Homo sapiens: one gene and its partner. The protein of the gene in region 2 purifies or fractionates together with the protein of the main gene of each other region. This does not show direct contact. Each region holds a gene or a part of one and is shown on either strand. Other genes may lie near its edges.

Region 1 (3,824 bases), on a different chromosome or scaffold from region 2:
AGTTATTTGACCTCTCCTTAACCTCAGTTTTCTTTTCTGTGAAATGGGGACAATAAAGCTTCCATTCTTCATTTGGTTTCTTTAAAGCTTCCATGAGATAATACATATAAAACATCCAGCTAGTTTACTTTTATTATTACTCCCGTCATCAATATTTTCATCATCATTTTTACTGTTATTATATATGTAATTCAGTGCCAGAAACCCAATGGGCATTCCATAATTACTGGCAATTTATTATTTTTAGATTAGCAATGTTATCCAAGTTTTATTGCACAAGGTCTCACATATAGAAGGTGATTAATAAAGACTTTTTTTTTTCAGATGGAGTTTCATTCTTGTCGCCCAGACTGGCGTGCAGTGGTGTGATCTTGGCTCACTGCAACCTCAGCCTCCCAGGTTCAAGCGATTCTCCTGCCTCAGCCTCTCAAGTAGCTGGGACTACAGGCGCCCACCCCCCATTCCACCCACCTGCCCCCACCACACCTGGCTAATTTTTTTTGTATTTTTAGTAGAGGTGGGGTTTCACCATGTTGGCCAGCCTGGTCTTGAACTCCTGACCTCAGGTGATCGGTCCACCTCAGCCTCCCAAAACATTGGAATTACAGGCATGAGCCACCGTGCCCGGCCTAATAACACTTTTCAATATACAAATGCATGTATGTTCGGGAGCCACATTGCTGAGATGCCATTCTGCCTCCACCCCTTACTCTAGCTGGGTGATGTGGAGAGGTTACTTAACCTCCTCCTGCTTCTCTTTCCTCATCTATAAAAAGCATAAGTGTTCTTAGATTACTACATTGTGTGAGAGTTAAGTGATTTGGCATATATAAGTGCTCATTACATAGTATCTAGCATCCTTTTATTCAGAGCCACAGAGAGTCCACACTGTCCCCTGGTGCCATACCGTGTAAACGCACATGCACACTATGCCCTTCCACCAAGGCTGCACAGGTAAAGCCTGGATGTTTCCCCTGCACCTGCTTTCCTAGTGCCCACGCACAGACATGATGATCTCTGTGTTCTCCTCACCTCCCCTCGAATCGGGTCTGGGCTGCCCACCACGGCTGACTCCGCCACCGCTGGGTGCTCCACCAAAGCGCTTTCAACCTCTGCAGGCCCGATGCGATACCTGGAGGATGAAGGGTTCTGAGGCAGATGCCAGGGCTGGGGTGAACCAAGTCCCCAGATCTCCTGCTTTGGAGTCACAGCTTCCTTTGGCACAGAGGGTGGAGGTCATAGGAAGCCAGGGACCCCTGACTTGTCTGTGTCATGGGCCCAAAGTGTAAAGACCTGGACATTATAGGCTGAGAAATACAAGACTGCGGTGCTCCCGGCTTCTTGCCTCACTGCCTGTACTGATGGAGGACGGCTAATGTTTTGTCTCCTCAGAGCTTGGCCCAAGCAGCTTCCCCCAACACGAAATCTCTTGGAAGCCTCAAACTTGGTCTTAAACATTCATGCAAATTCTGCATACTATTTCCCATTGTATCAGCAGGATTTTCGGCTTTTATTATATATACTTAAGGCTTACAACATGATGTTTTGATGTACATATACATAGTAACGCGATTAAAACACTCAAGCACACTAGCATATCCATCGTCTCACATAATTGCCTTTTTTTTCTTTTGTGGTAAGAACATAAAATCTACTCTTTGTGCAAATTTCCAGTACATCATGTTTTAGAAATTTAAAATAAAATCCCATCCAGGCTGGGCATGGTGGCTCACACCTGTAATTTTAGCACTGTGGGAGGCTGAAACAGGGGGATCAATGGAGGTCAGGAGTTCAAGACCAGGCTGGCCAAGATGGTGAAACCCCATCTCTACTAAAAGTATAAAAATTAGCTGGACATGCTCACTTGAAGCCAGGAAGCAGAGCTTGCAGTGAACCAAGATCAGGCCACTGCACTCCAGCCTGGGTGACAGTGGGAGACTCTGTCTCAGAAAAATAAAATAAAATAAAATAAAATAAAAAATAAAATAAAAAAATAAAAATGCCATCAATTTCTCTAAAATATCCAAGGGAAATTGTTACTGTAGTGTAATGCGCCTTTTTAAAAATCATGTAGGGGTAGGGACAGGGACTCAGAGCCAGACTACCTCAGTTCAAATCTGGATTGCATCCTGTGCTATCTTTGAATCTTTAGGCAAATTTCCTTGCCGGTCAGTGACCCACTTTCCTCGTTAGTAAAATAGGGATAATAATCACATCTCCCATCCAGCTTTGAGAGGTGGGTTATATAAAGCATTAAGGACAGTGTTTTCACATAGTAAGTACTCCAGGTTAGCTAAATAGTTACAGTAAATAATATATTTATACTAATAAATAATTTTATAATAATAGATTTATTATGCTCATAGATGTATAACAAATATATTCATAATAATAAAAATAAACAATAGCTAAAGGTTAGCTATTATTATTACTATGTTTGTCCTGTGACATTTGGTGCTGCATTAGAGGGGCACAAACATGAAATAGGCTCCCTGAACCTATGGAGACCAAGACAGAGTCTCCCTTCTCAATTCCACTCCCCCCACCCCACTGTAAATTGCACAGTGTCTTATTATGGCTCCTCTTCCAGACCCTCTTGAATTTCATTTTGCTTGATTCTTCTGCGTGCAGAGAAGGTTCGGGAGGTATACTGAAGCCTGGAATCAGGGCACCATAGACACGGCTCTATTCAGATTTAGGCTGAAATTTCACCAATGCGTGAAAAAATGTCTAGGTAAGCAAAATTCCGTGAGGCATGTGACGGCAACAACAGCCAGCCCAGCATCAGCCACACCTACCCAGAGGCATTAATGATGTCATCACTCCTCCCCAGGAAACAAATGTAGCCCTCTTCATCCATCTTACCTCTGTCCCCAGTGTTGTAGAAGTCCCCACATTCCACTTTAGCTGTCTTCTCTGGGTCACCCTGCAAAAAGAAGAGAGCTCCTTTGTTGAAGGCAGTGAATTTAGAGGTGATGAGCCACAACCTTGGGTTCCAATCTGGGTTTGAATTCTGCCTCTGTTTCTACTCGGTACCTGGGCAAGTTTTGCCATTTCTGAGTCTATTTTCATTACATGTAGCGCATGATGCATGCGACTGCTCTATGAGTGGTTGTGATTAAACCAATTTCAATGACAATGTTTAAAAATATCAATTCTGCCACGTGCGGTGGCTCACGCCTGTAATCCCAACACTTTGGGAGGCTGAGGTGGGTGGATCATGAGGTCAGGAGTTCAAGGCCAGCCTGCCCAACATAGTGAAACCCCATCTCTACTAAAAATACAAAAATTAGCTGGGCATGGTGGTGCATGCCTGTAATCCCAGCTACTGGGGAGGCTGAGGCAGGAGAATCGCTTGAACCTGGGAGGTGGAGGTTGCAGTGAGCCAAGATCGCGCCACTGCAATCCAGCTTGGGCAACAGAGTGAGACTTCATCTCTCTCTCTCTCTCTCTCTCTCTCTCTCTCTCTGTATGTATACATATATATATATATATATATATATATATATATATATATATATATATATATATATTCATTTTGTGTGACACTACACTAGAATGAAATTTCCATTATGGTGTGAACCTTGCTTACTGCTATAAGCTCAGCATTCACATAGAGCCTGGACAGATGAGAGGGGTCAATAAACATTTGCTGAGGGAATTTTCTTCCCTAAATACTATCTCATTTCATCCTCACAGAAAGCCTATGAGTCTAGTATGTTTTTAAGTTAACTTTTCATTTTAAGACAAATGTGGATGGCATGTAGTTATAAAAAATAATGTGGATCGATGCCCTGTACTCTTCACTAGTTTTCCACAGTGGT
Region 2 (3,824 bases):
AAGGCTTCTTCTTTAGCCCTTAAGCCTATGACACAATTTCCATGCTGGTAATTCCTTTCATCTTCTGAAGAATCTCTATTTTATTATAACATTATTGGCTTTCAGCTTGGAATTTCTCTACGCAGATTGTCTATTGACAGTGCCAAGGAAACATCTCACTGTCCACAGAATAGCAGCCTCCACCCAGTTGAAAGCTGCACATTGTTTCCACTTTACCATTGGTACTTCCCTCTGATGGCATCCAGCACACGACCATTAGCCTGAGTGATGCCCAACTGAGCCCAGACTTTGGTCAAGTTCCTTCCGACTGAGCCCAGTTAGGGACACCCTGCCCCCAGAGGAATATAACAAGCCCCCTCCCCTAGCTGCCCTGCAGCTTATTTTTCGTCCAAAAGGTCGCCCCCACCGCAAGTTCCCAGAACTTAGGTGCCACTATAACCACCCCTAAGCTAAACCACATCCTGGTACCCTGAGCCAGGCGGGGGCAAAAACTGACAAACTGCAGGATGTGGCCATACTGGGAGGAAAAGTCTCCACAAATGGCCTTGCCCCCCCGACACCCCCGCACACACACACAAAACCCCTGCAGACCTACTTATACCCCTTAGCCTGTAAGCCCGGTGTCTGCCTCCTCAGATTTCTGTAGAGCAGCCCAGCAGGTTAATAAATTTGCTTGCCGACTTTGGGTCTTCTTGTCCTTTCTCTTGGCTAACCTTATAAGCCCATGTGCATAACTCCCTCTAGGTCAGCGGTCCCCCAACCTATTTGGCATCAGGGACCAGTTTCGTGGAAGGTAATTTTTCCACAGAGGGTTGGCGGGGGTTGGAGGTGGGGTGGCGTTATTGGTTTCTGGTTTATATTGTTCCACAAGGATCACACAACCTAGATCTTTTGCATGCACAGTTCACAATAGGGTTCCCACTCCTGTGAGAATCTAATGTCACTGCTGATCTGACAGGAGGTGGAGCTCAGGCTGTAATGCTCACTTACCTGCTGCTCACCTCCTGCTGTGTGGCCGGGTTCCTAAGAGGCCACAGATCAGAGCTAGTCTATGGCCTGAGGGTTGGGAAGCCCTGCTCTAGGTAACATAATCCCCTTATGAGAAATTAGACAGATGACATTGAGATGCAAGGAAAGCATCTCCTGATGAAACCATCCCAATATCACGCATAAATGAAGGCAGTGATACAATGTCCCTTATACAATTTATAATCTCTTAAAGGAAGCAATAAACATTTAAACTATTGGACTACTGGGATGTACATTTTACCAGATACCAGCATCATAATCTTATAACTCTATATGAAAGTTTGAAAAAATAATTATAAAGTTTATTTAAATGTTGATTGTCCCAAGGTCTACAGTTTCTTTTCTGTTGTGTCATCAGTGACAAAGAGTAAAAAAAGGAAACTCCCATATTTAGCACTTTAGAGTAAAACACATGGATCATCGTTATTAACAGTCCTCTGGGCGTGCTGGAGCTCACTGAGAAGGCTTCTATTTTGAGCTTGGAATGTTGTGCTGAGCTGTGCAGCCTGTTCCTAAAGAGTGATAAATAGAAAGTAAGATCAAGCTTCTTACTGATTGCCTAAATCACTCACTTGTCCTTACTTCTTTTCATCTACAGTAGCAGTAAACAGTTCCTGAATATCTCTCTTCCATTCACGTGCATCTAACCTATTTCTGTAATTATTCACCCTCCTTGTCTTTCTCTAGCTCCAGAAATGGTCATTTCTCATCCCTGGAATATTGGTGTCCCTAGGATTCCAAACCAAAGCTCCCTTCCCCCTTAAACCACACGATCTCCTTGGGCAATCTTAGTCACATCTTGACTTCAATTCTCATACACACACAGGAGACTCTCAGATATATTTCTAAGAGAAGAGGCTGATACAAAAACAGTGTATCTAAGTGACATCGGAATCAGGTGGGCTGTCCAATCTTTACATACATAAGAGAATTTGTTCCAGGTCACCACAGAAGTAGGAGAAAAGAGTGAATACATAAATAACCACATGCTGCTCATACTGCTCTTTAGGAAGGAGCTGCAATCAGAAATATTTTAGAGTAACTTCTGAAAAACTAGTACCTACAAACTGGCAAGCCAAGGGGAAGAATTAGGATGTCATTTGTCTCATTAGGGTGCTGACATAGGAATTTTACACCAGGTCTGAAGAAGCAAAAACACTGCAGATTCCACTCATTTGGAAGGCAGTTTTGTTAATGTGCTAGGCTTGTGTGATATTTGCATTGATTATCTCTTTGAAACCCCACTTATCTCATCTGAAAAATGAGGACACAGTAGTTCTGCTTTACAGTGAATGGATTAGATGAGATAATGCATGTAAAGTGCTATGACAGTGACTGATAAATAATAACTACTGGAGAGTGCTTGGTAACTACTGACAGTGATTGGTAAATAAAAGTAAAGGACCGGATGAAACAAACTGGCAAATTAAAGGCCTTCAGAACAGAGATGATCAAGGCAAGAACAGGGGCATAGACACAGTAACATGAAATCAGATTAACAAAGTATCTATGACCAAAGCAAAAGATCATCCAGGACAATTAACAAGTCAACAGGAAAGACCAGTTACTGCAGCCCAGAAATGCCTTGGTTTTTATTTAACAACATATAGTGCTTACTCTGTATCGGGCACCATTTAAACACAAATATTAACTCATTTAATTATCAAAATAACCCTATAACATAGATATCATCACTGTGTCCATTTTACACAAGAGGAAAATTAGGCACAGAGGTGATAGATAACTTGCCTAAACCATATACTTACTAAGAGGTGGAGCTTGGATTCATACCCAGACTTTCTGGCTCCAGACTCCCTGCTGAGAGCCACAAGATCTTGCTGCCTCTCCCTCTTTGCCACTGCTACATACTCTCATCGTTACAGGCAGGGGAGAGATGAAACAATTGATGAATACCTGCATCTGTTGTTCCTGCATTTTCTGTTGCTCTGCCAGCCAATTTTGTTTGGCTATCTCCATTTGTCTCACTTGTTCCTGATGGAGTCTCTCCCTCTCCTGCATCATTTGCTCGTTCTGCCTTTGAATCGCCGCCAACCTTTGCGCTTCAGCCTTTTCAGCTTCTGCTTTCACTTGTGCCTCTGAGGAGAAAAAGATAATCTTCTCTAGGATTAATGTGCCTCTTCCTTCTGCCTCCCACTTTTGTTTGTGATTGTTCCAACTTCCTGGATAAAATTCCCAGGGGTTGTTTTTCCCTTCCAGGTAACCACAATGCAGGATCATGCCAGTCAGATATGCTTGAGGAGCTAAGAAGCATCTTTGCCATTCTTGCTCTAGTTTAACATCCCATGAGGGCCAGGCCAAATTTATTTAAAATTTATAGATTTCTTTCTATCTTGCATAATTTCCACTTTCTTCTCACCTTTCTTCTTTTTTTCCGTCTCTGTGAGAGCCTGGTCAGTCTGTAATATTGCATGACTCACAGACTCCTTGGACTTTAAATATTTCTGCAGAACTTCTTCAGCCTAGCAACCCGGAAAACATGCAGTTAGATGCAGGAAATGGTGATTAGGAATGTTGTAAACATCTTTGTCTTGTTCCTTCCAGCAGCATCTATTCCTCATAGGAGAGGCTTGCCATAGGAGAGGCTCCATAGGAGAGGTGGAGCCTATACAGGCTTCCACCCTGCACTTGGTGGAACTGCCAATTGAGACTGGAGAGGCTTGTGGAACACCTGCTCCTGTCACAAGTTTGGCCATGACTCCATGGTCAGTCAGAGCATGCAAGTCCACTAGATGCAAAGGACTTGTTCACAGGGAGAAAAATACTGCAAAGAGTAT

The links.
Region 1: the proteins of GBP5 (region 2) and ACSM1 purify together in Homo sapiens (affinity purification with mass spectrometry; 2 studies listed by BioGRID and IntAct, with this or other methods). This does not show direct contact.

What each region holds. Positions count from the first base shown.
Region 1 is NC_000016.10:20,624,391-20,628,214, forward strand, and holds part of ACSM1 (acyl-coenzyme A synthetase ACSM1, mitochondrial), read right to left. Parts: intron 2,927-3,824; coding exon 2,799-2,926; intron 2,701-2,798; coding exon of another isoform or gene 2,686-2,700; exon of another isoform or gene 2,333-2,685; intron 1,133-2,332; coding exon 1,033-1,132; intron 1-1,032. UniProt on the Homo sapiens protein: Catalyzes the activation of fatty acids by CoA to produce an acyl-CoA, the first step in fatty acid metabolism.
Region 2 is NC_000001.11:89,259,277-89,263,100, forward strand, and holds part of GBP5 (guanylate-binding protein 5), read right to left. Parts: intron 3,510-3,824; coding exon 3,407-3,509; intron 3,126-3,406; coding exon 2,944-3,125; intron 1,542-2,943; coding exon 1,428-1,541; 3' UTR 1-1,427.